4 linked regions of the Homo sapiens genome follow. The protein of the gene in region 1 purifies or fractionates together with the protein of each later gene. This does not show direct contact. Each region holds a gene or a part of one and is shown on either strand. Other genes may lie near its edges. The genes, in order: EEF2KMT, BCAT2, GALC and CEP78.

The links.
Region 2: the proteins of EEF2KMT (region 1) and BCAT2 purify together in Homo sapiens (affinity purification with mass spectrometry; 3 studies listed by BioGRID and IntAct, with this or other methods). This does not show direct contact.
Region 3: the proteins of EEF2KMT (region 1) and GALC purify together in Homo sapiens (affinity purification with mass spectrometry; 3 studies listed by BioGRID and IntAct, with this or other methods). This does not show direct contact.
Region 4: the proteins of EEF2KMT (region 1) and CEP78 purify together in Homo sapiens (co-immunoprecipitation; 2 studies listed by BioGRID and IntAct, with this or other methods). This does not show direct contact.

The regions. Positions count from the first base shown.
Region 1 is NC_000016.10:5,094,787-5,102,643, reverse strand, and holds the start of EEF2KMT (protein-lysine N-methyltransferase EEF2KMT), read left to right. Parts: upstream 1-4,848; 5' UTR 4,849-4,904; coding exon 4,905-5,000; intron 5,001-5,290; exon of another isoform or gene 5,291-5,364; intron 5,365-7,129; coding exon 7,130-7,192; intron 7,193-7,857. UniProt on the Homo sapiens protein: Catalyzes the trimethylation of eukaryotic elongation factor 2 (EEF2) on 'Lys-525'.
Region 2 is NC_000019.10:48,801,028-48,808,047, reverse strand, and holds part of BCAT2 (branched-chain-amino-acid aminotransferase, mitochondrial isoform a precursor), read left to right. Parts: exon of another isoform or gene 1-679; intron 680-973; coding exon 974-1,048; intron 1,049-1,330; coding exon 1,331-1,531; intron 1,532-7,020. UniProt on the Homo sapiens protein: Catalyzes the first reaction in the catabolism of the essential branched chain amino acids leucine, isoleucine, and valine. May also function as a transporter of branched chain alpha-keto acids.
Region 3 is NC_000014.9:87,983,179-87,990,198, forward strand, and holds part of GALC (galactocerebrosidase isoform a precursor), read right to left. Parts: intron 5,346-7,020; coding exon 5,277-5,345; intron 5,030-5,276; coding exon 4,966-5,029; intron 3,895-4,965; exon of another isoform or gene 3,791-3,894; intron 3,425-3,790; coding exon 3,311-3,424; intron 1,356-3,310; coding exon 1,216-1,355; intron 1-1,215. UniProt on the Homo sapiens protein: Hydrolyzes the galactose ester bonds of glycolipids such as galactosylceramide and galactosylsphingosine.
Region 4 is NC_000009.12:78,231,216-78,239,092, forward strand, and holds the start of CEP78 (centrosomal protein of 78 kDa), read left to right. Parts: upstream 1-4,859; 5' UTR 4,860-5,135; coding exon 5,136-5,388; intron 5,389-7,877. UniProt on the Homo sapiens protein: Centriole wall protein that localizes to mature centrioles and regulates centriole and cilia biogenesis. Involved in centrosome duplication: required for efficient PLK4 centrosomal localization and PLK4-induced overduplication of centrioles.

The sequences.
Region 1 (7,857 bases):
TGCAGAGAGCCAAGGTCGCGCCATTGTACTCCGGCTTGGGGCACAAGAGTGAAACTCCATCTCCAAAAAAAAAAAAAACCACAACACAACAAGGGCCCCGCATGTGACTGAAAACAACAGAAATGTATTGTCTCGCAGGCCTGGATGCCAGAAGCCCAAAATCAAGGTGTCGGCCGGGCTTCGCTTCCTCTGAAATATGTAAGAGAGAATACTTCCTTGCCTCTTCTGGCTTCTGGTGGCCGCTGGTAATGCTTGGTGTTCCTTGTAGATGCATCGCTCCCATCTCTCCTCCCTCATCACATGGCTGCCTTCTCCCTGTGTCTCTGTCTTCACCTGACATTCTCCTCTTTTATTTTTTTGAGATGGAGTTTCCCTCTGTCACCCAGGCTGAAGTGCACTGGCACAATCTTGGCTCACTGTAACCTCCGCCTCCTAGGTTCCGGTGATTCTCCCGCCTCAGCCTCCTGAGTAGCTGGGATTACGGGCGCCCGCCACCACGCAGTGCTAATTTTGTGTTTTTAGTAGAGATGGAGTTTCACCATGTTGGCCAGGCTGGTCTCGAACTCCTGACCTCAAGTGATCCACCCACCTCACCCTCCCAAAGTGTGCTGAGATTACAGGCATGAGCCACCATGCCCGGCCCTCATTCTCTTCTTTTATCAGGACGCCGGTCATTGCATCTGCCTCCTCACCAGCAGCCCCCAATCCAGTACGATTCATCATTACTTGATTACATCTAGAAAGACCCTATTTCCAAATAAGGTCACATTCCTGGGTACGGAGGATTAAGATTTCCAATTTTTTCCCTGACTCAATTTTTTTTGAGTCAGGGCCTCACCCTGTCACCCAGGCTGGAGTACAGTTATGTGATTATAGCTCACTACAGCCTCAAACTCCTGGGCTCAAGGGATCCCTTGACCTCAGCCTTCCAAGTGGCTGAGACTACAGGCGCACACCATCATGCCCAACTAATTTTTTTGGTTTTTTGTGGTTTTTTTGTACAGGTTAGGTCTCACTCTGCTCACTCTGTTGACCAGGCTGGTCTCCTGACCTCAAGTGATCCTCTTGCCTTGGCCTCCCAAAGCACTGAGATTACAGGCGTTATCCCGTGCCTGGCCCTCTTTCTACACCTCAGTCATTGCATCATTAGCCTGAGCTGCGCATATTCCTTATTCTACCCATCCCTGACCAACCTCCTCCTTTAACATAACTTCCACCTCGATATCATGGGGCCTGCTGGGCACTGCAAACAGCCTAAGGAAAGTGGAAACTTTACTTAACCTTCAATTCTATTGCAAAGTCCACATTGAACGTAATTTATATTTGAACTATAAAATTTTCTGTAAGTTGAAACATGACCTATAAAGGTCTCTACACCCTGAAGCAACGTTTTAGAAAGAAATCAATTGGTCCTTTTCTGCAGAAACCATTAACCATAGGAGAGATAAAGGAAAAACTTCAATGGACTGATTGAACTTCCATGCCCATAGCTTAACTTCTAAAAGGCAACCATTCCATACTGTTAAACTGCCTTAGGTTGTTATTACTGTTATTAAAGAGACCCTCAAAGCCGGAAGTTGAATCTCGACTGTAGTTCTTGCACGTACACGCAAACTCTTGCAACTGAAACCAGCTTGTCCTGATGCTGCTCCCCGTAGCAACACCGCCTGGAATTTCACGTTTGTTTTTAAGCATCAGTCCTAATCTTCACTTGCACCCGAACACACCGCACCTGTGACAGCCACGTGACATTAAAAAAATCCCTTCAGTGAGGCCGGGCATGGTGGCTCACGCCTGTAATCCCAGCCCTTTGGGAGGCCAAGGCAGATGGATCATGAGGTCAAGAGATTGAGACCATCCTGACCAACATGGTGAAACCCCGTCTCTACTAAAAATACAAAAATTAGCCGGGCATGGGGACGCGTGCCTGTAGTCCCAGCTACTCCGGAGGCTAAGGCAGGAGAATCGCTTGAGCCCGGGAGGCAGAATTTGCAGAAGCCGAGATCGTGCCGCTGCACTCCAGCCTGGCGACAGAGGGAGACTCTAGACTCTCTGAAACAAAAAAAATCCCTTCAGTGCCTTGATCCTTCCAGATTCAGATCCAAGAGAGATGACATTTGTCCCTCATCTGAACCCGCACACCAAGATAAAGATTTCTTCTGGCCAGGCGCGGTGGTTCACGCCTGTAATCCCAGCACTTTGGGAGACAGAGGCGGGCGGATCACCTGCGGTCAGGAATTTGAGACCAGCCTGGCCAACGTGTTAAAACCCTGTCTCCACTAAAAATACAAAAATGGCCCGGCATGGTGGCTCACGCCTGTAATCCCAGCTACTCGGGAGGCTGAAGCAGGAGAATCGGTTGAACCCGGGAGGTAGAGGTTGCAGTGAGCCGAGATTGCGCCATTGCACTCCAGCCTGGGCAACAAGAGAACGAAACTCCGTCTCAAAAAAAAAAAAAAGAAAAAAAGATTTCTTCTGTGCTCATGGCTCAGCTCTGTGGTCTGCTAGGGTCCTTCCTCAATCTGCTTGCAATCTATGGAATCAGGAAAGACTGAACCAACCTAGATTTATTAATATTTTAGTATAACATAATACAGTGTTACTTATTACAGCATTGACCGTATATGCCCTTTTGCTCCTTGGAGGAAAGGCAATTAATAGCTATTATGTGAGTTAATAAAATAAGCCCAGGATTTATGAGTGTAACTAACTTGTTACCATTGGTTTTCCTTGTCTCCTGCAGGCAGAGAGCTGATCAAAACAGCAAAAGCAAAGCAGTGCCCCTGGCCCAGTTCTGAAGCCAACCTTCCTTAAGCACCCAGACCCATCCCTGGTTAGGACTTGCTGTGGATTATCAGGTGACTCTATCTCAGGATACAGGGACTGAGAGGGTGTATGCAATATCTCAGACCCAGAAACTGTTGATTCTGTCTAAAAACACAGCAATAACCACATCCCACCCTCTTGATTTAAATGAAAGTGTTTGGGGGAATAAAAGATGAACCTTTTTTTTTTTCTTTGTCAGATCTTGAGCTCATTTGGTTCTGGTGGGGAACAACAGCTATGCGAGAACAAGTGTATTCTATTAGAATTAATTCCCCTCTTATTCTCATAGCTGAGCAGGGCTCAAGAGCCTCTCATCTGAAAGAGGTAATAAGATTTAATCTGTCTCCTCATCTACCTTCTGCAAGTATACTTTACAAATTAGCTCTCGGGACTCTTCCAAATGGAGTTTTATGAGGGATTTGCTAAGGTAAACGTTTTAGACTTTGAACACAGTTCAGATTTCAGGGGCAGTACTGAAATCTGAACTGTGTTGCTAACTGCCCTGCCTTTCAACTCAAGACACAATAACTTTGAACTAAATTAATTATATTTTTGTTGTTTTCCACTCTGTCCCCACGTCTATATCACCACCACCCCCAATCCCACCCCGCAGGAGCTAACTCCTCCTTCCTGTCCCTGCAAGATCAAAACTCCTCCTGCAAGCCCCGCTAGCTCTGTCTGCTCGCCTTCGTGGCAGATATCGCTATTGTACTTTTATACTCATTTGTGTGATAAATACTTCAATGTCCACTTCTTCCACGAGCCCCTGAGCCCCTGGAGGGCCTGGACCACACCTAGTTTTTCTCACCGTTACATCTCCCTTGTCAGGTACCTGGTAGGCGCTTAATAAGTATTTGGTGAACGAATGGCTTGTTTGGTGACAGTCCAAAGGCTGGGGGACAGAGGGAAAGCTCCCTCCTTTCGGACCCCAGACGGGTGGCGCTGATGGAGAGGAGGCTTGGATAAGGCCTCCAGGACCGAAGCGCGCACCCGTAGGGCCCCTGCCAAAAAGACCTTCCTGAAGGCGGAGGAACTGCGAGAGTGCCTACGTTGGCCCAAGGCCTGACCCGACGATCCCAGGGACCCTCGCCCTAACCGGCCCCGCCTCCCGGTCCCCAAACCCGGACTCGGCCCCGCCCTAAGCTCCGGATCCTGGGGCCCGCCCCTGGCCCCGCGTCGGCAGACCGTGGCCTCGCTGCTGGGCCTGCCTCAAACCCTCCACAGGTAACGCCTCCCGAACTTGAGCCACATTCCGATCCCCTCCTCAAACCCCTCCCCGTTTCCCACGCCCTGGACCCCTCGCTCCGTCTCGGCCCCGCCCCAAGCCCAGCTAGGTCTCGGCCCCTGAGCCCAGCCCCGACCGGCCTCCCAGTCCCTGGGTCCCTCCCGACACCGGCCCCTCCCTAAGCTCCGCCTCCCAGGGCCCGCCTCCTGAGCGCAGCCCGCAGCCCGGACTCGGCCCCGCCTCCCGGACCCTGGGCCCCTCCCCACGTCGGCCCGTCCTAAGCTCCGCCTCCCAGAGTCCGAGCACCGCCTGGCCATGTGCTACGACATAGTCAACGCCCCGCCCCGGCCCCGCCTCCTGAGCTCTTCTCTGGGTCTGGCCTTAGCGCCGCCCTAAGACCTGTCTCCTGGGCTCTGCTCCGAGTCTCGCCTCCTGAACCCAATGGCGTTTATCCCTGCCCTAATGCCCGCCTCCAGGACTCTTATCCTGCCCCCACGCAAGGCCCCGCCTCCAGGACGCCACCAACCTGGACGCTTCTGAAGCCCAGCTTCCAGGATCGCCCTATCCTGGCCCCGCCCCAGGACCCGCCAACCTGGACTCTACCCAGGACCTGCCCCCTACCCAGGACCTGCCCCAACGACGCTTATCCTGGCCCCACCCCAGGCCCCGCCCTCATAACAATCATCCTGGCCCCGCCCTAGAGTCCGCCCCCACGACGTTCCTCCTGACCCCCGGGGGACCCCCGGGCCCCGCCCCCTCTCTGCCCCCGCTCACTGCCCTGGGCCCGCCCCCTCTTCAGTCCAGGCCGGGCTTCCGCCCGGTCTGCCGGCAACGCTGCGGCCCCGCCCACGTCATGGCGCCCGAGGAGAACGCGGGGACCGAACTCTTGCTGCAGAGTTTCGAGCGCCGCTTCCTGGCGGCACGCACACTGCGCTCCTTCCCCTGGCAGGTGGGCGGCGGGGCGAGCGGAGAGGCCCGCGGGGCTCGCGGGAGTCCAGGGGCAGACGGGACGGGTCTCCGTGCTGAAGCCCCTGGCGCTCCCGCCACGTGAGTTCCTGGGCTCCCGCCGGTCAGGGCCGCGCGACCCGGTCCCCGTCCCTGGGGCCTGGCCAGAGTCGCTCGCACCCCTCCTGCCCCGCGAGCTGGCGGGGGAAGCTGGGGGCGTCTCCACAGCCTTGGGGGGCAGACGCGCGCTCGGTGTGGGGTACAGTTCACGATCATTTTCACGACTTTTTAAAGGCAGTAATCGTTCTGGTCACTGGGACACAGCTGCCCTCGCCCATTCTAAAAAGTCAGCGCCGTCAGGACCGCAGGTAACCACGTCCTCCTGAGCGCGGTGACCGGGTCACAGGCTGTCCCTCGTGCCTCAGTATTCTCATCTGTATGTTGAGCACTGCACAGAATCGGCTCATGCTCTGAGGCTGTCACGCCTGTGATGGAAGAGACAGAGAAGGGGGTGGCCTCTCCTCGCCCTGGGGACCTGCCATTCTCAGCACAGGCCCATGGCAGGCAGCAGCCTCCCTTCTGCCAGCAGAGGGGCTTAATGCACCCGGCCTCATTTGTAATTCATGTGCGGTGAGCTCACTGGGATGAGTGAGTTTGGATATATATTCCTCCCTGGGTCTGCCCCATTTTATGGGGTGTTGCTTAATCATTTGCGTTATTCCATTGACATAAAATATTTGCACTCAGAGATCATTTCTGGTCAAGAGAAATTCGTGCATTTTTAACCCAAAATAGAAACCTTCATAAAAGCATCATAGGTCTCCATTCAGTATTGACTGTAATTGTTCACATGCCCACGCTGAATGCTAACTTGGGCTCACCCTCAACACCCACGAGGTGGGTACTATTATTACCACTCACATTTGACCAGAGGGATTGTTTGATTAGGGTGCAGTAGTTGAGAGTTCAGACCCAGGAGACAGCCTGTCTGCTTCGAATCCTGGCCCAGCCCCTGGCCCTGTGTGACCTTGGGCAAGTGACTGCATCTCTCTGTGCTGTTTTCTTATTAATAAAATGGGGGATATAATGATACCTACCTCTTAGGGTTGTTGTCAGGGTTGAGTACAAAAGCCTGTGGATCAGTGCCTGGCTCATGGTAAATACATGTTGGTGTTAGCTAGTGTTTTTATTCAGTCTCAAAATGTTTAATAAATGCCTTCTGTGAGCCAGGCACCATGGATCAGCAGTACCCATGACAGATGAGGCTCTGCTTGCATGGGAGAGCCAGAGAATAAACAAATAAATAAACAAGAAAAGACCAGATGACAGTGGCTTTAAAGCCAATAAAACAGGGAAATAGTGAATGCGGGAACTGGGAAGAAGAGTCACCAAAGTCAGGGAATCAGGGAAGCCTTCCCCAAAGAGGTGGCATTTGAACTGGGGCCTGAGTGGTGAAGCAGCCAGCCATGGGAAGGGCTTGGGGAACAGGATATGCAAAGGCCCTGTGGTGGAAACAAGCCAGCTGTGGTTGAGGAACAACACCAAGGCAGCCAGTGTGGCTGGAGTGGAGTGAGCAGGGTGGGCCAGGGGTGAGGGAGAACAGGCCAGAGAGAGGGATTAGGACCAGGTCTTGTAGGGCCTTTTATGGCATGGAGGGAGCTCTGAAGCAATGAAGTGCCTTGCCCTGTGTCACATACCAGCCGAGACAGTCTGCCTAACTCGGGAGCCAAGGCTCGCTGCTGGGCTTGAGGCCCCTGTAAGAGGATAATGTAACTCAGGCTGGTATGGGCACATTCTGCATCTCCACTTAGATGGCAAGCCCATCAAACCTTGGTGCCATGGCTGCCCTGGTAATTCCTGGCTGAGCAGTGCAACCAGGGAGCTGGCCCATGACCCGGGTGGCCGCTAAGTAGCCAGGACTAATGTGGCCAAAAGTCAGCCTTCTTCCTGTGACTCATCCAGGTGCACCCTGCGACATCTGAATGTCAGGCTTTCAGCCGCTGTGGCTTCCACTTCCAACTGGCTCCACGTCCCCAGGGAGGGATCACACAGCGCTTTGCCAACACATTCTATTGCGTGTTTAATGTTCCTGTGAATGCGCCCTTGAGATTTCTCTCTTTCCCCTCCACACAGAGCTTAGAAGCAAAGTTAAGAGACTCATCAGATTCTGAGCTGCTGCGGGATATTTTGCACAAGGTAAGAATCCCAGAGTCCCTGGGACTCATGACCCTGCCTCCTGAATCTCTCCAGAAGACCTGAGAGAAGAACTGCAGGTGTGCTTGTACCCTTTAAAAACACCCCTGTTCAAAAAACAAAACCATTGAGTCAGCACTGCAGGTGGGTGTCAGCACCTCTGACAGCTCCAGCGCTTTCGTTTTCTATTTAAGACTTAGACAAAGACTTCAGAATATACAAAAACCTGCAATGAGAGGGGGGAATCTAGGGAATGTTTTTTAAACCATCCACAGCAAAAACAGAGATGACAGGTGCAAAACAGCTTCTAGCATTTGGTTGATGTTCAGAGACTTTCTTTTTTGCTTTCATGAGGCCTGTCCTGCCCACTCCTGTCTCCTCTAGACCTAAATGGGCCCTTGCTTTGCCCAGGGTGGGGTTTGGACTCAAGTGCATCTGCCTGCAGGTGAGAGGCAGGATCACCACCCGGCCCAGCCACAGCCTGACCTTGGCCTTGAGGGCCAAGTGCAGATCACCCTGCATCCTGGGTCTTCACGTTCGAAGGGCCATGAGCCCTTCTGAAAAGACCAAGCAATAGACTCCCTCGCAGAAAGAAGTGCACCAGAAGAATACATTTTCCATACAAACTCAGGAGGCAGATATCCTCCACCCCCACCCACCCAGCCCAT
Region 2 (7,020 bases), on another chromosome or scaffold:
ACTCACCCAGCTCACAGGGCAGGCCAGGCCAGGCCACTCTGTCTCTCTCAACCTCACGCCCCAACGCCTCCCCACAGGGCTGGGGAAAGAGGCCTTGTGAGGTCAAAGGTCACCAGAGAGGGCCCAGCCTGCTGGACACAGCCAGACCTGCTCTTCCTACTCCCCTCTGGGAGGACCCGCCTGAGCCTCATGCAGTGAGGACTGCAGTGGCTCCCCAGGCCCCTGTAGCTGCCCCTCAGCCCCAGGGGCTGAAGGGAATTGGAGTCACTGCCAAAATGGGTTTGTATTTCAGGTAATCAGAGCCCAGTTGATCGAATACCTTCAGAGAATAAGCACCTGTACTCCTGGGTCTGGCGGAGGAGGGGCTGGGGAACTGGACTCCTGGGTCTGAGGGAGGAGGGGTGGGGCCTGTACTCCTGGATGTAAGGGAGGAGGGTCTGAGGCCTGGACTCCAGGGTCTGAGGGAGGAGGGGCTGGGGGCCCAGACTTCGGGTCTGAGGGAGGAGGCAGCTAGAGTCTGGACTCTTACTTAGGTCTGAGGGAGGCGGGCCTGGGGTCTGCACCCCTGAGCTCTGGGGGAGCAGGACCTGTCGGTCCTTGGTCTTCTAAGGCCTGTCAGCACTTGGGTACCCGGAGGCCTTCACTTACCTGTGTGCCTTCCCTGGTTGTTTTCTTGTCTGAGCTGATCTCCAGGCTGCGACCAAAGGTCTCTGGGGTGGGAGGCGCTTGCGTTTGACTTTGCCGCAGCATGGAGGAGGGGGCGGGAGCTGACTCAGCTCTTTCCAGCGAGCCCTCGTCAGGGCAGGGAGGGGACTTGGCCTCCTTCAGGACCACCTGCCCCGTCTAGAATGGACTGAAACTGGGACAGAACAGGCAGGCCAGTGGGACCTCCAAGTGCAGGAGGTGGCGAGCGAGCTGCCAGGGCCCCTGCTGTGCCCCACTCACCCCCTCTCTCACTTCTTTCTCCACCCAGATCTGGGCACGAAAGCTTCTCTCTGTCCCTTGGCTTCTGTGTGGTCCCAGAAGATATGCCTCCTCCAGTTTCAAGGTGAAAGGAGGGAACTCGATGCTTGGCTCTGAGAGAGGAGGGGGCTGGCAGCTGGTTTTGGGCATCTCCAAAAGGTCCACAGCCCAGAGATGGCAGTGAGTGGTGGTAGCTTAACAGCCTGCCATTGGGCCGCAGACAAGGGATGAAACTGCATGTCCCAGAATCCTCCAGGGTGACAGGTCCTTCTTCTCTATGGGTCTGAGGCCCAGGGCTTCATGGGAGTTGTAGTTTTTCAGCTGGGAGGTTGTGGCCAGATTCTAGGATACCCCTGTCTTTCCTCAGGCTGCAGACCTGCAGCTGGAAATGACACAGAAGCCTCATAAGAAGCCTGGCCCCGGCGAGCCCCTGGTGTTTGGGAAGACATTTACCGACCACATGCTGATGGTGGAATGGAATGACAAGGGCTGGGGCCAGCCCCGAATCCAGCCCTTCCAGAACCTCACGCTGCACCCAGCCTCCTCCAGCCTCCACTACTCCCTGCAGGTGGCATGGCGGCCGGCCTCTCTCCCTGTCCCTGTCTGCATCTCCTCCTCCTTGCTGTGTCTCTTGCCAGGTGTACCTCTCTTGGTTTGTTTGTTGTGTGTTTCTCCTTTCTGTGCATTCACCATTTGTTTTCTGAGGCCTTCCATGCTCCAGGCTCATGCTTGGTGATGCTGGGTTCCCCGAGATGAGCAGACCCGGTTCCTTCACTTGGAAAACCCCATGCTGTGGGCATAACTCAGTATGATCTGTGCTCTGATGGAGGCCCTGTGGAGGCCAGTAGAGACCCCCAGCCTCACTTGAAAGAAAGCATGGCTTCTTCTGGCATAGAGGGAAGCTTAGAGGGGGATGGTGGGAGAGGTGACAGGGTGATGGTAGGAAAGGGGACAGCCGGGGGGCTGGCGGGAGAGGGACAGCCAGGATGATCGCGGGAGAGGGGACAGCCATTGGGGGGGGAGATGGTGGGGGAGGGCACAGCCAGGGGGATGGCTGGAGAGGGGACAGCCAGGGGAGGGATGGCGGGAGAGGGGACAGTCAGGGGAGGGATGGCGGGAGAGGGGACAGCCAGGGGAGGGATGGCGGGAGAGGGGACAGCCAGGGGAGGGATGGCGGGAGAGGGGACAGCCAGGGGAGGGATGGCGGGAGAGGGGACAGCCAGGGGAGGCATGGTGGGAGAGGGGACAGCCAGGGGAGGGATGGCGGGAGACGGACAGCCGGGGGAGGGATGGCGGGAGACGGACAGCCGGGGGAGGGATGGCAGGAGAGGGACAGCCGGGGGAGGGATGGCGGGAGAGGGACAGCCGGGGAAGTGATGGTGGGAGAGGGCCAGCCGGGGGAGGGATGGCAGGAGAGGAGACAGCCCAGGGGGGATGGCGGGAGAGGGGACAGTTGGAGATGGCGGGAAGGGGGACAGTCGGTGGGGGATGGCAGGAGTGGAGACAGCCAATCCAAACCCCAAACGGGAGTAGAGCCTGGTACATTTGGGAGAAATTGCGGTGTTGGAGCATGGTTAAGGAGGCTGAAAATGTCAGGGCCATGGAGGAGCTGAGGGGCTGGGGCCTTGTCCAAGGGTGCTGGGAGCCACTGAGGGCTCTGAGGAAGGGAGGGGCAGGGCCATGTCTGGGTATAGTAAGAGCCCTCTCAGGCCATGTGGAGGGCAAGAGTTGCAGGCTAGGAAGCCGGGCTGGTGACCAGGTAGACCTTGGGCCTGTCCCCACATGGGGACCCAGGAGGAGGAGCGGCTTTGTGGCACCTGGTGAGCCTGAGATACTGTGAAGTTTCTAGGAGACAGATCCAGGAGGCATTTGGTTTTAGGACTTATAGCTGCGGCTGAAAGCAAGGTCTTCAGAAGGAAACTTTGGTTGAGACAAGATTTAAGTGAGCATCTTACAGCTCCAGTAACTGGTTAGCAGGTTGGCTGATTTTAGTCCTCCAGGGCACAGTTCTGTGGCATGAAGACTTTTATTCCATTCCTTTCTTTCCTTTCCCTCCCTCCCTCTGTTTTTTCCTTTCTTCCTTCCTTTCCAGAATTTTAAGGTTTTGTTTTTTCCCCTCTCCCCTCCCACTCTGGACATCTAAGCAACACCAGTCGATTCTGTACAGAGCACACACACCTCCAATCACAGCCAGACACTCCTGCCAGTACATAAGCGTGATGGGCAGGATTCCGCCTGCTGAGCCCCCAGGAAGCTGGTTACTTGGAGACCACCACACACTTCTCCCTTCAGCCCAGCACAGCAGTTGTCCTCTGGCTGGGGACCCAGTACTTTTTCTTCAGCTGAGTGAGAGCAGAGGAAGCCTGTGGCCCTGGCAGACAGAACGCACTGCTGTGATCCCGCGGGTCCAGGGGGCGGAAGGGGGAGGATGAGGGAGTAGGACAATGCTGTCCCTATGTCACCCACACTCCAGGGCATGTGTGGATTGCAGGCCGACCACGTGTATTATTTTTTATTTTATTTTTTCTTATTTATTTATTTAGAGACAGAGTCTCACTCTGTCCCCCAGGTTGGAGTGCAATGATACAATCTCGCTCACTGCAACCTCCGCCTCCCGGGTTCAAGTGATTCTCCTGCCTCAGCCTCCCCAGTAGCTGGGATTACAGGCGCCCGCCACCACACCCGGCTAATTTTTGTATTTTTAGTAAAGCCAGGGTTTCACCATGTTGGCCAGGCTGTTTTCGAACTCCTGGCCTCAAGTGATCTGCCCACCTCAGCCTCCCAAAGTGCTGGGATTGCAGGCGTGAGCCACCATGCCTGGCCTTATTTTTTATTATTGTGGTACTAATACGCATACATAATAACACACAGCATCAAATGTGGGATTCCAACCATTTTATTTGTTTGTTTGTTTGTTTATTTATTTATGAGATAGAGTTTCACTCTTGTTGCCCAGGCTGGAGTGCAGTGGCACAATCTTGGCTCACTGCAACCTCTGCCTCCCAGGTTCAAGTGATTCTCCTGCCTCAGCCTCCTGAGTAGCTGGGATTATAGACATGCACCACTATTGGCTAATTTTTGTATATTTAGTAGAGACACGGTTTCACCACGTTGGCCAGGCTGGTCTCAAACTCCCGACCTCAGATGATCCACCGCCTCATCCTCCCAAAGGGCTGGGATTACTGGCGTGAGCCACGGCGCCCAGCCTCCAACCATTTTAAAGCCCATAATTCAGTGGCAGGCAATGTTATGCAACCATCAGCACCATCAAGGTTCAGAACTGTTTAATCCCCCATACCTATTAATCAGTACCCATTGTCCCTCACCCCAGCCCATGACAACCATTAGTCTGCTTTCTGTCTTTGTCTACCTGTATTTGTTTATTTATTATCTTTAAATAATAGGGATGGGGTTTCACCATGTTACCCAGGCTGGTTTTGAACTCCTGAGCTCAAGTGATCCACCTGCTTCGGCCTCCCAAAGTGCTGGGATTACAGGCGTGAGTCACCAAGCCTGGCCACCTGCATTTTTGTTGTTGTTGTTATGACTCTTTTTTTGAGAAAGGGTCTTGCTCTGTAGCCCAGGCTGGAGTGCAGTGGCACGATCTTGGCTCACTGCAGCCTTGACCTCCCAGGCTCCAGCGATCCACCTGCGTCAGCCTTCCAAGTAGCTGGGACTGCAGGTGTGCACCACCATGCCCAGCTAATTTTTATTTTATTTTATTTTTTTTTAGGGATGGGGTCTTGTTATGTTGCCCAGGGTGATCTCAGATTTCTAAGCTCAAGTGATCCTCCTGCCTCAGCCTCCCAAAGTCCTGGGATTGCAGGCATGAGCCACTATATCCGGTGTATCCGGGCTCTTTTACCTGGGTTTTGTTTTGTTTTGTTTTTGAGACGGTGTCTTGCTCTGTTTCCCAGGCTGGAGTGCAGTGGCATGGTCTCAGCTCACTGCAACCTCCGCCTCCTAGGCTCAAGTGATCCTCCTGCCTCTGCCTCCCGAGTGGCTAGGACTACAGGCACACACCACCTTGCCCAGTTAATTTTTAAATCTTGTGCAAAGACAGGATCTCACTTTGTTGCCCAGGCTGGTCTCGAACTCCTGGCTTCAAGCAATTCTCCCACCTTAGCCTCCCAGTTCTGGGGTTACAGGTATGAGCCATCATACTGGGCCTGGAAATTCTTCTCTATACCTTAAAGCTTAAAGAGCTTTTTCCATCTTTCTTGCAGCCTCATGCTGTATCATCCTAACAATGCACCTCCTTAGGCAATCCCCTACTGTTGGACACTTAGGTTGTTTCCAGTCTATTATAAACAATTTTGCAATAAAGAATCTAGTACAGGGCCGGCTGTGATGGCTCACCTGCAATCCCAGCACTTTGGGAGGCTGAGGCAGGTGGGTCACCTGAGGTCAGGAGTTCAAGACCAGCTTTGCCAACATGGTGAAACCCCATCTCTACTAAATATACAAAAATTAGCTGGGTGTGGTGGCGGGTGCCTGTAATCCCAGGTACTCGGGAGGCTGAGGCAGGAGAATTGCTTGAACCCGGGAGGCGGAGGTTGCAGTGAGCCGAGATTGCGCCACTGCACTCCAGCCTGGGTGGCAGAGTGAGACTCCATCTCAAAAAAAAAAAAAAAAAAAAAAAAGGAATCCAGTACACACGTCCCTTCTTTAGTCACTTGTTTAAGTGCAAATGTATCTAGAGGCTCAATTTCGGGAACTGTAGGTCAAAGGATATGTATGCTTGTAATCTTGATACGTATCGCCACATCTACATCTACAGGGTGTGTCAGTTTCCACACCCACCAGCAGAGCCTGTTTCCATACCTTGGACAACCCTTGTCCAAGTTTTAGATCTTTTCCAATCTCCCATGTGGTTTTAAAGGTATCTCAAACTAATTTTAATTTGCATTTTTCTCCCTAGTGATTAATGAAATTGACTATCTTCTCACGAGCTTAAGGGCCACCTGTATTTCCTTTTGTGTGAACTGTCCATTTGCTAGGCTGATTTTTCTATCAGGTTAGGTTTTAAAAAATTCATCTGGGGCTGGGAAGAAGAGGCAGGGGGATTGCTTGAGCTCAGGAGTTCAAGACCAGCCTGGGCAACATAGTAAGACCCTATCTGTACAAGAAATTGGAAAAAAAAAAAAAGTCCAGTCGTGGTGGCTCACGCCTGTAATCCCAGCACTTTGGGAGGCCGAGGTGGGCGCATCACCTGAGGTCAGGAGTTCAAGACCAGCCTGGCCAACGTGGTGAAACCCCGTCTCTACCAAAAACACAAAAATTAGCCGGGCGTGGTTGTAGGCACCTGTAATCCCAGCTACTTGGGAGGTTGAGGCAAAAGAATTGCTTGAACCTGGGAGGTAGAGGTTGCAGTGAGCCAAGATAGAGCACTTCAGCCTGGGCAACAGAGTGAGACTCCATCTCAAATAAAATAAAAAATAAAATTCCCAATCCAAGATATAAAACAGTTATTTTTGTTTCCTTCTATAGCTTTTATGGTGTAATATATATATATATATTTTGTTTAGACTTTTAATGCACCTGGAATTTTTTCTGGTGTGAGGTGTGAAATAGAGATTCAACGTAGTTTTTCTCTAGATGGATATTTGGTTATCTATTCCATTATTCAGTCTGTCCACTCATATAGCAGTGTCACTCTGTTTTAAGTATTGTAGATTTATAATGTTTTACTACCTGATATGGCTACTCCCTGCCCCTGCCCCATCTTGCCCCTCATTTTTGTGGTGGTGGTTTTTATCCCCCCAAAATATTGTAGCTAGTTTTGCTTGTCTTCCATTCATTTATCTATTCATTCATCAAAAACCCACTATGGGAAAAAAAAAAAAAGTCTGGCTGGGTGCAGTGGCTCACCCCTGTAATCCTAGCACTTTGGGAGGCTGAGGCGGGTGGATCAACTAAAAATACAAAAATTAGCTGGGCGTGGTGGTGGGCGCCTGTAATCCCAGCTACCCAGGAGGCCGAGGCACAAGAATCACTTGGACCTGGGAGGCGGAGGTTGCAATCAGCAGAGATCACGCCACTGCACTCCAGCCTGGG
Region 3 (7,020 bases), on another chromosome or scaffold:
AAGAAAAAAAAACTAGCTGGGTGTGGTGGCGGGTGCCTGTAATCCCAGCTACTTGAGGCAGGAGAATCACTTGAACCCAGGAGGCAGAGGTTGCAGTGAGCCAAGATCACAACACTGCACTCCAATCCGGGTGACAGTGTAAAAAAAAAAGGAAAGTTCTCAAATATAAACTAATTTTTCAGTCATAATTTGGAAAAGGATAGCAAAAACTAGTATATTCTTTCTTCTGACTTCCTCCAGCCCTTGGCTCATCCTCATGCCCTGTATCATCATGTAGTATTACAGTTTATATGTTCCAGCATCTACTTCTCTTACTGAACACAAGAGCTTATTAATCTTAGTAGCCCTCAAATATTACAGTCACAGTTCCTGCAACACAGTAGGAACTCAATAATTGTTTGCTGATAATCTAAGTCATGATTGCATGAAAATGTTTAAGTATTAGTTTTAACTGATGGTATATTAATAAGCAAATGATTATGGAGACCCACTATGTGTGTGTTAAGGCCCTGTGGGGTACGATGCAGCCTGGGGCATGCCTCCACCCAGCCAAGAGACAAGCTGGACATGATATCATTTTTCATACTTTTCAAATCCTTAAAAGGTGTTAACTAACAGTTTGTGACAGGTGAACGCAGATTTCAGCCAGCCTGCCAAATCTGGCCCATCATCTGTAATTTTACAACTTGAGAGCTAAAAGTGTTTTTAGTTTTAAATAGTTACATTTTAAATGGCTATATATTTACCTCAAGATCCTCAATATTGCCTTTTGGCCCACAAACCCAAAACTATTTATGCTCTGGCCCTTTAATAAAAAGTTTGCCAATCTTTGGCTTAAGACAACAAGAGGATAAAATGAGACTAACCCCCCATAAGCTGTATAGGAAACACAACACTGTTGTAGGAACCAGAGAAAGCAGGGAAAGCTTTGAAGGAGAATTTGAGTTGGGTTGATACAAAAAAAAAAAAAAAAAACCCAGCTCAGAGGAAGGAGGTATACACTCAACACAGTTTTCAAAAGTGGGAACACTGGGATGGGCAAAGGGGAGCAATTAAAGGTCACAGGTACTTAGTTTGTGTTATTATCAGACACCATTAGAACAAATTAGCCTCATGGCATAAAATGGTTAGTCAAAAAGTACCACAGAATCAAATTATTTTCTAAATTACAAACAAATGTCCAAAACTGAATCATATTTTAAATATATTACTAACTCCAATATAATCAATGTCCAAATCATGGTAACGCTTGGCGCCCACAATCCAGGTCACGACATAATAGGCAGTCAGCTGAAGATTGACATAAGGCCAGTCGAAACCTTTTCCCAGCCATCCAGGGAATGACCATGGCAACCCTGCAGAGAGAAGGGAGGAGGCAAAGGTAGAGGAGGTATAACGGTGCTGGCGCTATTGAAAATAAAACAAATTTTTTTTAAGAAAAGCATTCAACTAGCAAAAAACCAATACAGATCTGACTAAAGGAAAGTTTATATACCATATAAAAATTATTGAAATCCTTTCCAATCTATAGACACTATAATTCCTTATTGATCCCTAGAGTCAGGTCCCATAATTTCAAATGTTCTTTCCAAGAAGAAGAAAAATAACAAATACAAACACCTCTCTCCAAGACCCTTACCAATAGAAAGAAATGTACCATATGTTTTAACTTAACATGTCCACTCACTGTTGGAATGTTCAATATTCAACTTCTGTTCTTTGAGGTCAAATCAAAGAATTCTAAAAGGCTTATGCCAAACTACTCTTGAGTTATGTATAACACAAATTTATCATTCAATTGTACATCTTCTTACAATTTAGGGTCCTTAAAATATTAATCAGTCAGGCAATCTAATTTAGCAAAACTAGTTTGTTCTTATATCACTATAAATGACAATGACTCCATAGAGAAATATACCCTTGTTAAGTGATACACATCAAATAAGTCCATATTCTTCCAATAATCCTGATTATGTTTAAGTAAAAAAATAAGAAGAGTAGAAAAGTACTTATTATAATTCTAAATTTAACTTGCTACTAATATATTAAAATAGGCTCAATAGTTAAGTTCCTCAGCAATAAATATATTACCAAACTAGTTCACCACTGAAAAAAATAAAAATCAAAATGACAAAATGCTTATTTTCTAAACTCAGGAGGAACACCCAAGTGTATTACATAAGAAATGTGACATTAAAGTAATAGAATTCTTGAAAACAATGAAATGCTAAATGCAATCTGAAGGCCTACCAAGTCTTTGTTAGGACATGGTTTAGCATGCCATATTTTCTACATTTAAATGAGGTCTGACCTTGGAAGCAGTCTAGTGGATATGTGCTGAATTCAGTGATGCTTTTACTGCTCACAGCATTTCTGGAATCTCTTACAAAAGCCCATTTATAAAGAACATACTTACTCCTAATTTCTTTTAACTTAGAAAATATTACTTTTCATTAACCTGATTGTTGAGAAAATTATTTTTTAAATAACTAGAAATCAGGTCTTTAAAATGAATCATTAATTTCATTTAACTTAGTTTGAATTTAAGCCTGTTTCAAAAAATCAAATTCATTTCAAATGATGAAAGTATCCCATCACTCTTGATGTTTGAAATACTTCACAAGCTCTGTACACATTCTCACAGAACTGTGAAATGTACATAGTCCCATTTAAGCAACTAGCCAATGATCCTCCCAATAGAACCTAAGCCCCACAGGTGCAGGAATTGGGGACGGGATTGGCTTCCTGAGTCCCAGAACAGTAACCAGCACATTATTGAAGTTCAAAAACTAACTAATAAACAAAAAACACTTTTGTATGTACCTTTTCTAAAAATAGGGTTCACTACTACATGCAATATACAATTTTGTAACTAGTTAGGTGTACTACTGCATGTAATATACATTTTTGTGAACAGTGTTACCCTTTTATAAATACTGATGACAGATCTTGTGAAGGAAAGTAGTTTAGCATCATAGGAAACATGGAATTAGGTGCTAACACCGATTTTGCCATTTACTAACTGTCTATGACCTTAGGTCAGTGGCATAATCTTCCTAAGCTTCTACTGCTTCTTCCTGGAAAATGGAAAGAGTCATGCCTTACTCCACAGGTATTATAAGGATTCAACATAATATACAAGGGCAAAGAAAGGATCACCCCTGGCACATGCTTTGCTGCTGGTAGCATACTGGTAGCATTAATGACATTATGAGTACTTCCGTATTAATAGAGATTCCACCAACACGATTCAGAATTTAAAAGTTAAAGGAAAAGAGACTGAAGAAACATTGCAAACTTCATTTCTTACCAATGAGTGTAATATTGGGATTCCTCTTCTTAGCTTCTTTCATCAACCACCACTCGTATCCTCGGAAATAATTCTCATCTAGTGCATAATGCATGTGGGAGGGCTCAGTGCCGTCTGAATAGAGGAGAGCAAAAACGGAAGTAATGATCCATGAATGGTACTTCCTAGGACCATCTCACTCCCCACCCCCACCCCAGACACACACTTCACAAAAGCAGTATTCCAGTTCTAATCCTGAAGTTGGGGAAATCATAATCTTACACAACTAAAGGATGGATGATAAAAGCATATCATTTCATCCTTTTTTTATTATCTTAAGCATTGTAAAAGTCTTAATAAAACCACAACCTTCTATTACAAGCAGTACTGAGAGAAATGTTATCACCTCATATAACTAAAAATTCCCAGTATTCATGCTTCTGGGCTTTTGATCTCTCTGTAGTTTTCAAATCCCCATGTCCAACTTTAAGTTCTGATTACCTCAACTTTCAGCTTTTCAACGCTGGATATGAATCCCTGGACTCGTGAGCCCTGTTCTCAGAACCCACACCTTTAGCCTATAATATGTCTTGATATAGGAAGAGTTTTGAGGAAAAAAAAAGGAATGAGTATACATATCCACTCTAAAAATAACAAAATTCTATACTAACATCTGCAGTTAGTAGAGGTTACATTGTCTTAGCACTGAGGTAGGTAATTGCTATCAAAGTCCTCGTATATTCCCACAGTTCACCAACATCTGCCCTTGCTAAGTAGGGCCTTCCGAGAGGCCCTTGCCCATTTCTTCTTAAAGGTAAACATCAGAATTCACAAGAACTGCCTGTTTATGTACCTCTACCTCTAATTTAGCTTCAGCAAGTGAAATTAGTCCATCATTGTCAATTCTGCCTAAAAGGTTTTAACAGTAAAACGCAATAGCTTGAAGAAAGTTTCTGTTATGGGGGTTTCTTTTGTTTTTGCTTTGCACTTTTTCTTCAACATAAACACTAATACCACCACATAGACATATCTGTTCAACAAAGAGTTACTTCCAAATCACTAGCAGGAATACAAGTAATACTCTAGAGTTCATTATAATGGAATCTGTTCTGTAAATAATAAGCTATATCTAATCATAGAGAGAATTTCTTTTCTTCTTCCTGGAAACAAAAGGCCTATAAACTGCCAGTTGATAACATGGACTACATAAAGCCAATCAAAATAGTGACAATGAAGACTGAAGATTTAGTGATTAAAGATAAGTTTTGTTTTTAAAAGAAAAAAAAGCTGTATCATTTTTACCACATATTTTAAGTTAATAACACTTTTTTTGTTCTATACGAAATTAAAATCTTTCTAACTGCTCAATAAAATTCAAAACTGTCCCTATGCTCTGTCCTGTATATATAGGTTTTAGAAAACTGTGGATTTGTTTACTACCGATTACTTCAACTAAATAAGCAATTTGAAGTTTGAATATTGTTTTTGATGGACCAGTCATATTCTATATAATATTTTTAAATAATTACAGTTAAAAAATGAGGAAAACTCTAATAAGCAACAATCAATCTCAAAAGTGTTGGTATTGTTTACACATATTCTGAAATCACAGTCCATATGCTGAGGTATAGATTAAAATGTTGATGGGAGAAATCCTATCTCCCAAATTCTCCTACCTGTTGTCTGCCCATCACCACCTATTTCCACTTTTAAAATATGCAAAGAGGCACCAAAATTCGGCTGTGAAAAGAAGTAACAGTATTAACATAGTGTTGTATTGTATGAAGCTTCAAGACAATTACTAATTACTGCCTTAGGTTTTACAGACGCAAAAACAAAAGCAAAACTTCAAATAGCAATTTATTCCAAAAGTAATGTGCCATTTTTTCAAAAACTAGAATTGTGAGGCTAATAAATTCTATGGTGAAATTCACCATCCAATTTCTAAAATATCACAGGTACCATGAAATAATTATGTTTTCATTACCTTAAAGAGATAATCCAATATCTGAGAACGATAGGGCTCTGGGTAATTTACTAGAAGTCGGGAGGTTGCCTAAAAAAAAAAGTTTTCAAAAGTATGAATAAAAGAAATCCAGTCATGAATATCTGTCTACAGTGTTCACGCACACCACCTGGTATACACATATTTAGCCTCAGGCAAGGTCAGGCTGAGGAAAAGTTCCTCACAAGTTGTCTGTCTGCCCTTTCTGTGCCAATCATTGGGCAAGTAGGGCTGCTGTCTGTCCGACAGCTAAAAAAGTTCTCTTCTTCTGGCATGAGGGCTAACTGGGAGGTAAGCTTGCTAACCTCATGATCACAAACTTATCTTGAAACTCAGGTTTTCTATCTTGAGACCACTTGACAACAATATCTCAGGACTAAAATGGGAGGGATGAATGTCAGGTAATTTTTCCCCTTAACATCTTCCGGAAAAACATCACAAGCAGCAATGCTGAAAGGAAGCACTACTTTCCCCATCCTCATAAATTCTACCTGTTACTATTAAGAATAACTAGCAATAATCTCCAGACCAGGCTGTACTAAGAAAACTTAACACAAGAGTGGCATCAGAATGCATGGAAAGACAAGGGTAGACAGCGCAGGGACCAATACTGGATCATGCCTGGACCACGGCATACAACTATTTGAAAAAAGAAATCACAAAACCAGTAACTGACCCATAATCTATCCTTTGGGAGGCAATATAAGCAAAAAATAAATAAAAAGAGGCCGGTTTTTGGCATGAAACAGTAGCCTCAGGCTTGTAAACCAGACAGTCCTAGGTTCAAACTGCTGACACTTTGCCAGGTGTATGTATGATGGTTGGGACAAAATACTTTTATGGGGTTCAACTTTCTATTTTATATTCTCATATATGCTACCACTGACATTCTGGTAAGTGCCCATATCTACTCTGTCACACCCAAAACATCCCCAGTCCCTACCAGTGAGGCAAACACCCATGGAGCTGCTCTCTAGCCACTCTTTCCATCTACCTCAATATATCCCAAACCAAACATAGCACTTTTGCATGTATCTGCTCCTTTTCCTGAACTTGCTGTCTCAGTAACCAACACTTGCCGAAACCATAAACTTGGGCCACCTTTTGTCCAAACTTCCCATGTACCCTCAGTCACCAAGATATCCTCAATAGCTCTCAAATCCCTCCTCTACTCTTCAACCCCACTGACTTACCCAGGCCCTCCTCACTTATGAGAACAGTATAAGTGGTCTCAGGACATCCCTTCTGCCTCTCCCTGTATTCTATCTTCCATGCTACTTACGAGAGTAACCTTCCCAAAATACAAATGTAATCACGAAACTCTTCCATGTAAACATGCTAAGACCGTCCCTTTCCCAAAAGCTTTCAGGATAAAGTTCAAATCGCTCAATTTTGCACCCAAATCCCTTAATTATTTGGCTCCTAACCCTGATACTTTATCCCTTATCACTCTCACACCTTCTACCTAGATGTATCAAACAACGTTTTCTATTCTTATGCCTGGAATGCACCCCACATCCTCTCTTGGACAACTCCAATTCACCTTTCAGCTCAAATTCCACCTCTGGAATTTGAAGGAAGGATGCCTTCTGGCCCTGCTCACTGATTTGATGTAAGCGCCTCTCCTTTGGCACCAGGTCCATATCTTTATTACAACACTTTGAACCCCGGCACTCCTTTATTTTTCTGACTCACCTCTTAGTTCCTTAAGGACATGGACTGTATC
Region 4 (7,877 bases), on another chromosome or scaffold:
GCAAATAGAAGGAAGGGAAGAAGAGTATGAGAGATGCTACAAAGGATAAACTGTGAAGTCTTGGTCATTGGTTGGATACATCCATTTATTCATTTAACAAATATTGTCAGGAATTGGGCTAGCTACTGGGGATGCAAGAATAAGTGGCAGGGTGTGGTGGCTCAGGCCAGGCATGGTGGCTCACACCTGTAATCACAGCACTTTGCAAGGCTGAGGTGGGCAGATCACGAGGCCAGGAGTTCGAGACCAGCCTGGCCAACATGGCAAAACCCCATCTCTACTAAAAATACAAAAATCAGCCGAGCGTGGTGGCTTGCACCTGTAATCCCAGCTACTCGGGAGGCTGAGACAGGAGAATTGCTTGAACCCGGGAGGCAGAGGTTGCAGTGAGCCGAGATCACCCCACTGCACTCCAGCCTGGGTGACAGAGCAAGACTCCGTCTCGGAAAAAATAAAAACAAAACAAAAACAACAGAATAAGCAAAACAGACACGATCCCTTCCTCAAGGACCATATGGTAAACATTTATTTCAAAATGAATGCGAAATAGAATGAAGGCTATCAACAAGAGTTACGTGGTATTATGAGAGCTTATGATAGGGGATGTGATGAGTCAGGGAGGGAGGAAATGCTTCCTCAACAAAGTGACACATGAGCTGAGATGAGAAGATGCGGAGGCACTAATTAGGTGCAGAATGAAGGGAAGGACATCTCATGCAGAGCGGACAGCATGGACAGTGGTTTATTCTAAGTGTGCAGGCCTGAAAGGAGACTACTATAGGCTGGACTGCTGAGAATGAAAGAGACTAGGACACAAGACAAAGCTGCAGAGATCATACTCCATCATGCCCTGAGGATGCAGCACCCTGGAGACTAGTGCTACTCAAAGTGCCACTGGACAATGAGATAAGGAGCTTGTTCTAGAATGTAACGCAATACACTGCTCTTTTCATGAAAAAAATCTAAGCAGTATGTTTAGTGCATGTGTGATTTACATTCTGAATTGAGCTCCTCATCTTATAAGAACAGTAACAGTTCTAAAATCAATAGCTAGTCTGTGGACTCCACATTGAGTGGAGCACTATTTGAGACCATTGTGAAGTTTGTCTTTATCCCGAGAGCAAAGGGAAGTCATAGAAGGATTTGCAGAGGAGGTGGTGGCGGCTGCAGTGTGGAGCATGGATTGGAAGGCAGCTGAAGTCAGAAGAAAGAAGACAAGAAAGTTTACATTTGGAACTGTTTTCCCTGATGAAGTAAGAGGTGTCCTGTTCAGGGATGTAGAATGAAGTGTTATGGTGTATTAGTCTGTTCTCATGCTGCTAATAAAGACATACTTGAGACTAGATAATTTATAAAGGAAAGAGGTTTAATGGACTCACAGTTCCACATGGCTGGGGAGGCCTCACAATCATGGCAGACGGCAAAGGAGAAGCAAAGGCACGTCTTACATGCGGCAGGCAAGAGAGCTTGAGCAGGGGAACTCCGATTTATAAAACCATCAGGTCTCGTGAGACTTATTCACTTTCACAAGAACAGTATGGGGGGAACCACCCCCATGATTCAATTATTTCCACCTGGCTCTGCCCTTGACATGTGGGGATTATTACAATTCTAGGTAAAGTGTGGGGACACAGCCAAACCATATCAAGCAGCAACATGAAAAGAAAGAAGGAGAAGGAATTGGAACAACCACTGTGAGTAGCCACAAGGAAGGTAATGGGAAAAAGAAATGGGGACCACACATCCGTTAACATAAGACAGCTTATGTTGTTGGCCAGGTTGACATTGCTCTGTGCCTGGATCCATCAAACCTCACTGCTCTGGAAGCAAGTACAGAGAGGATGAATGTTAGAGATAAGCAGATGATATGGCATTGTGGTTCTATGGAAAGGTAAGTGGGCTAGGAAGTCGGGGTATAACAGTCTGGATTGACTGGGAGTAGAGTACAGTGAACAAGTGCTTAAATGATACCATTTACCTGTATTCTACTCAAACACTCACTCACCAGATCCCCTGAAGGAGGAGAGCTCATCTCTTATACCACCCAGTAGAACGTCCCTCCCAAGTCATGCACCTGCAATGAAGCCAAGGCATTTTGTCTTGGGCCAGGTGTGAGCCTGGTTTGTCAGAGGATCCCAGAGGTGCCACAGAGAGACAGTTTTCATTCAGTGTTCAGGGAAGTGTGTGGGTGAACCCACCAGATGCTGAAAGGAGAACTGGAGCCATTCTTTTTTTGAAGCAACTATTAAGTCATAATTTAACTGAAGCAGAGAAGAGATTATCAGGCAAGCCTTGAAAGAAATCTTGCCACACTAAAAATAAGTAAGCACAGGAAACATAAATTTTAAATGAATATGTTAAATGATTATTAATATGAGGAAGACTTCTCTGAGCTGCATTCATAGGCAGTGGCTACAGGGTGCTGGCAATAGCTTGCGGGGATAATAGGGAAGAATGTTCCTACAATTAGTCATTAGTTAGCACTTTCTCTGTGCTAACACTGTGCTAGGCATAGGGAATGTAAGCATGAATGAGACATGGTTCTTGCCTTCAAAGGGCTTTCAGACTCTGGAAGGAAAACCATCTAAAAAGATGTTTATCATTGGATGTTCTAAGTGTTATGCTACAGGGATGTCAGGGAGCACAGCAGTGAGGTGCTAAACAAGCAAGGGAGGAGAGATGAGGGTTAGAGAGAAACAGGCTTTCTAGGGAAGGTGCCCCAAACCAAGGCTGGGAAAAGAATGGAAGTTAGCCGACTAAATAAAGGAGCAGCCTATGAAAAGACCCAGACAGCAACAATAGGACATCAGAAAGTTCAAGCAGTTCTGTGTATCTAGAGAAGACATGCCAGGAAGAATGTAGCAAGGAGAGAGACAACAGAGATAGTCAAATTATGAAGGAGCTTGTATGTCAAGCTACGTGACATAGATCTGACACTGAGGGCAGTGAGAAATCTTGGCTTTCTAGGGGGCAATTTAATGGATGAAGAGATCTATCTGTGTTAGAAGTAATCTGCCTAGAGTGGGGAAGTTAAGGCTGAGCAGAAGACAAGAACACCCAGAGAAACTGTAAAATGTCAGAAGGGGTGAAAGCTGAGGGTAGAAACCTGACGAACAGCAATATTTAGAGTGGATATGCAAGAGAAGCCAAAGAATGAGACTGAGAAGAAGAAATTCGAGAGGTAAAGAAAAAGAAATCAGGTGGCTTCATGGGAAACAGGGAGGAGGGAGCTTTAAAAAGGTAATGGACACTACATTAATTGATGCTGGAGACTAGAAAGAAAATGGATAGAGCAACAAAGAAATCGTAAAGTTGGAAACAATTTAAATTACCATCAACAGAAAAACAGACACATTACTGTATGTTTCTACATGGAACTCCCATATAACAACAGGGAAAATAAATGAATATCTCTATATGTCAACACGGATGGACCTAGTAAAGGTAACGATAAGTAAAGTAGGAAAAGAAAATATAGAATGTTATATACTGCTTACTTACATATGTAGCAGAAATATAAAGACATACATTGCAACGATGAATACCAAGTTCAGAAGAGCAGTTATCTCAGAGTCAGAGAGTAGTCGTGATTGGGAAGGTGGTTACACAAAGCTCTTCAACAGGAATGGTAATGTTTCATTTATTAAGCTGGTTTATGAATATACAAGCGTTTACTATATTAAGATTTGAGCATGTCGCACATAAAAATAATTGGTGACCATATCTCCGGAATTTTAGAGACGCCTGCATATGTGTGTTGGAAGTAAGTTGGAGTATCCGGAATGCAGTGGGTGGAACAGGAATGCAATAAACACAATGTCTAAGGCTCTACCGGAGGACTATCATTGCTCTAGCAATTGCATACCAATAGAAGGAGAGGTCAATTATCTGGATTCTTCCACTTAGCTTCCACTTAACTTCCCCGTTCCTCAGTTTCCCCTTTTGTAAAGTAGAATATAATAGTATATTCCTTGAGATGTTAGGAGAATGAAATGATTTCATACTTAAACATTGCTTAAAATAATCCCGAGGACATTATTTCAAATAAGTACTAGTTACAAGGGAGTTAGCCAACATCATCGTCAGTACAAAACAAACTGATTCACAGCAAACACAATAAAGTCCTGAATTCATGAAACACTCTTCAATTTGCCAGGAACCGTGTGAGATATGCAGAAACTACAGAAATTAAGGCTTATTTGTAGATATTAACACAGACATAAAAGATTTAATGACCGCAGTTCACGTTCAATCAGCCGTTCCCACATCCCTTGAGTGCAGTCTCTGTGCTGGCTGGACACTGCAAGCACAGACACATTCCTCAGATGTTTAGACTTTTTTTAAAAGTGCGTTGTTACATCCACATTTCACTTTTTATTTTCTTTCTTTTTTTGAGACGGAGTTTCGCTCTTGTCGCCCAGGCTGGAGTGCAATGGCAAGATCTCGGCTCACTGCAGCCTCCGCCTCCCGGGTTCTAGCGATTTTCCTTCCTCAGCTGGGATTACAGGCGAGTAGCTGGGATTACAGGCGCCCGCCACCATGCCCGGCTAATGTTTGTATTTTTAATTGAGACGGGGTTTCGCCATGTTGGCCAGGCTGGTCTCGAACTCCTGACCCCAGGTGATCCGCTCGCCCCCGCCTCACACAGTGCTGGGATTACAGGCGTGGGCCACCGCGCCCGACCACACATTTCACTTTTATTCGGATCGATCAGTAAACTCTTTCGCAAACCCTCAAACTCTCCCGACCACTATCTCAGGTAGCAGCGAACTCACCCGTCCTCAGGAGGCGGGACCTGCGTGCCGACGCACAGCGAGCACGTTGACGTCTTGGCGCACCGTTCCACGGCACCGCCCACCGGCTTGAATCCCGGCGCCTCAGAGGACTATGAGGCGGGCGCCAACTGCTTGGGCCGCAGGGCGGGAGGCAGCGCGGGAGTGGGGCGTTGAGGGGCCGGCCTAGCTTGGGGCTCTGGCCTTGCGTCTTCCGACCGAATCACCGCTCCTGAGCCCGGTGCGGGGCTGCCGCTATCGCCTGGCCGTGGGTGCCGGAGCGGCCGGGTTGCGACTCAGCGTTCTTGGGTGGGCGCGGGCGGCGTCTCCGCGGCGGGCATCCCCCGAGGCCGCCCTCGGGCCATGATCGACTCCGTGAAGCTGCGCCGCGACAGCGCGGCGGACTTCTTCTCCCACTACGAGTACCTGTGCGCGCTGCAGAACTCGGTGCCGCTGCCCGCCGTGCGCGCCTGTCTCCGGGAGGGCGTGCTGGATTTCAACGCCGACCGCCTCCGCGGGGTGGACTGGGCGCCTCTGCTGAGCACCCTCAAGATCAATAAAGACCTGCCCTTGGTCTCCATCAAGAGCTTCTTCCAGCCCTGGCTGGGGGACACAGGTTTGTAGTTCCCGCCTCCAGGGCCCCTCAGTCGGTGCGGCGAAGTGGGTTTTTAGGTGAGTGGTGTCCATTGTCGGGGTATGTGTGCAATAGAAGGGGTGTGCGGCCTGGACACTCACGAGCTAGGTGAGTGGCTTAAGGTCTCTAGGGCTTCAGTGTGCTCATCCGTAACATGGGCTTAATAACGAGACCCAGGTTATGTGCGCCTTCGCAAGGATTCCCTGCGCTGCTGATGCCTGCAGAGCTCTTAGCACAGTTTGGGACATCATTAAACATTTGACAGATGTTACCTATTTTATTGAATGACTTTGATTTGCCTGATAGAGAACTAAGCAGGTAGGAAATTAATACATGTCAGCCTTTGTCTTTTTTTTTTTTTTTTTTTTTTTTTTTTTGAGACACTGTTTCACTCTGTCGCCCAGGCTGGAATGCAGTGGCAAGATCTCGGCTCACTGCAACCTCCGCCTCCCGGGTTCAAGTGATTCTCCTGCCTCAACCTCCCGAGTAGCTGGGATTACAGGCGCGCGCCACCATGCCCGGCTAATTTTTGTATTTTTAGTAGAGATGGGGTTTCACCATGTTAGCCAGGCTGGTCTCGAACTCCTGACCTCAGGTGATCCGCCCGCTTCGGCCTTCCAAAGTGCTGGGATTACAGGCATGAGCCACCGCGCCCGGCCTGTCTTCATTTTTTAAGGTGTATATAAGAAGTTTGTAAAGTGCTTTACAAATACAAGCCATTTGTAAATGTATAGTGGTATAATTAGGGATCCAGACTCTCTGATTATTCGGAAAATATGTTAGGTCAACTATGATATATGACAAAATGCTGTTATTCCTTTGAGCACTTAGCATTTTCTACATAATGGAGGCAGCTTCCTATAGACGCTAGCTAGGTAACAGGAAGGAACAGTTTGTGCAAAAGTTTTGGAAATAGGAGAGAGTATGCAAGCTGAGTTACAGGACTGGAATTTAGGTTTGAGAAAGAGCAGAGAGAGTTGAGGCTGGAAACCTTGTGGGGGCCAAACAGGGAGGGTCCTCGTTTGTCCTGTCATAGAGTTGGATGTTTATCCTGAAGGTTTTGGGAAACCGCTGTAGGATGATGAGATGGAATTTCCGTAGGAGCTCAGTCTAGCCTCCATATGGAAGACAAATTAAAATTGGAAGGATGGTGAATTGTAATCTAATGGCCCAAACTAAGGTATAGAAAAGAAGGGCTGGGGCCGGGCACCGTGGCTTATGCCTGTAATCCCAGCACTTTGGGAGGCCAAGGCGGGGGGGTGTGGATCACCTGAGGTCAGGAGTTCGAGACCAGGCTCACCAACATGGTGAAACCCCATCTGTACTAAAAATACAAAAAAAAAAAAAAAAAAAATTAGCCGGGCGTGGTGGCGGGCACCTGTAATCCCAGCTACTTGGGAGGCTGAGGCACGAGAGTTGCTTGAACCCAGAAGGTGGAGGTCGCAGTGAGCTGAGATTGCACCGTTGCACTCCAGCCTGGGCAACAAGAGCAAAACTCTGTCTCAAAAAAAAAAAAAAAGAAGGGTAGGATTTCAGATATCTAAGAGAATGGATGGGCGTGGTGACTAGTTAGAAGAGGGGGGCAGCAAGTATGGGTGACAGTTTACAGCAGCGTCTGTAAGTGAAACACAGCAGCGTCTTTCCATGACACAGCCGAGTTAACTCGAATGAGATTGGGGGTGGGAGGAGGATCTCAGTTTGTCTTTAATGTTTTAAGAGGGGCCTGTGGGGCATCCAAATGTGTCTGCTAGGCAGATCTGGGCCCAAGATTTAGGCTTTGTGGGAGGACAGGTATTTGAAGGCATGGGAGGGACCTAGATTACCCACAAAGAAGATCCAGATAATTGTAGGTCTGAAAGGTGTTTTTTAAGTGGATATGGACGTGAACATGTTTATAAGCTGAGAGAAAGAGGGAGGGTGTGCGATCTGGGAGAGGAAATGATTATTGATGTATTTAAAAACAACCTGACCACTTGTCGTGTGCCCGGCCCTTTTCTAGGCTCTGGGGTTAGCACCATCTCTTCTGCAAGGACAGTTCAACACATCTGCTTCTGAAAATAAGTCAGATTATTCTCTACATCTCATTCAGGTGCAGGAACTGTTCTGTACCTCTGAATGGACTTTAGTTAACCAAAATAATATCAGGAACCAGGCCAGGTGCGGTGGCTCACACTGGTAATCCTAACACTTTGGGAGGCCAGGAGTTTGTGACTGGCCTGGGCAACATAGTGAGACTCCTGTCTCTACAAAAAGTAAAAAATATTAGCTGGGCTTGGTGGATCTCTTGAGCCCGGGAGGTTGAGGCTGCAGTGAGCCATGATTTTGCCACTGTACTCCAGCCTGGGTGACAGAGCAAGACCCTGTCCATGACCCTCCCCCTACAAAAAATAAAAAAACCAGGAACCAAAATAAATTAAAGATGGGAGGGACCTCAGAGTCAAGGCTAGCCTACTAGATCTTGCCTAATATTT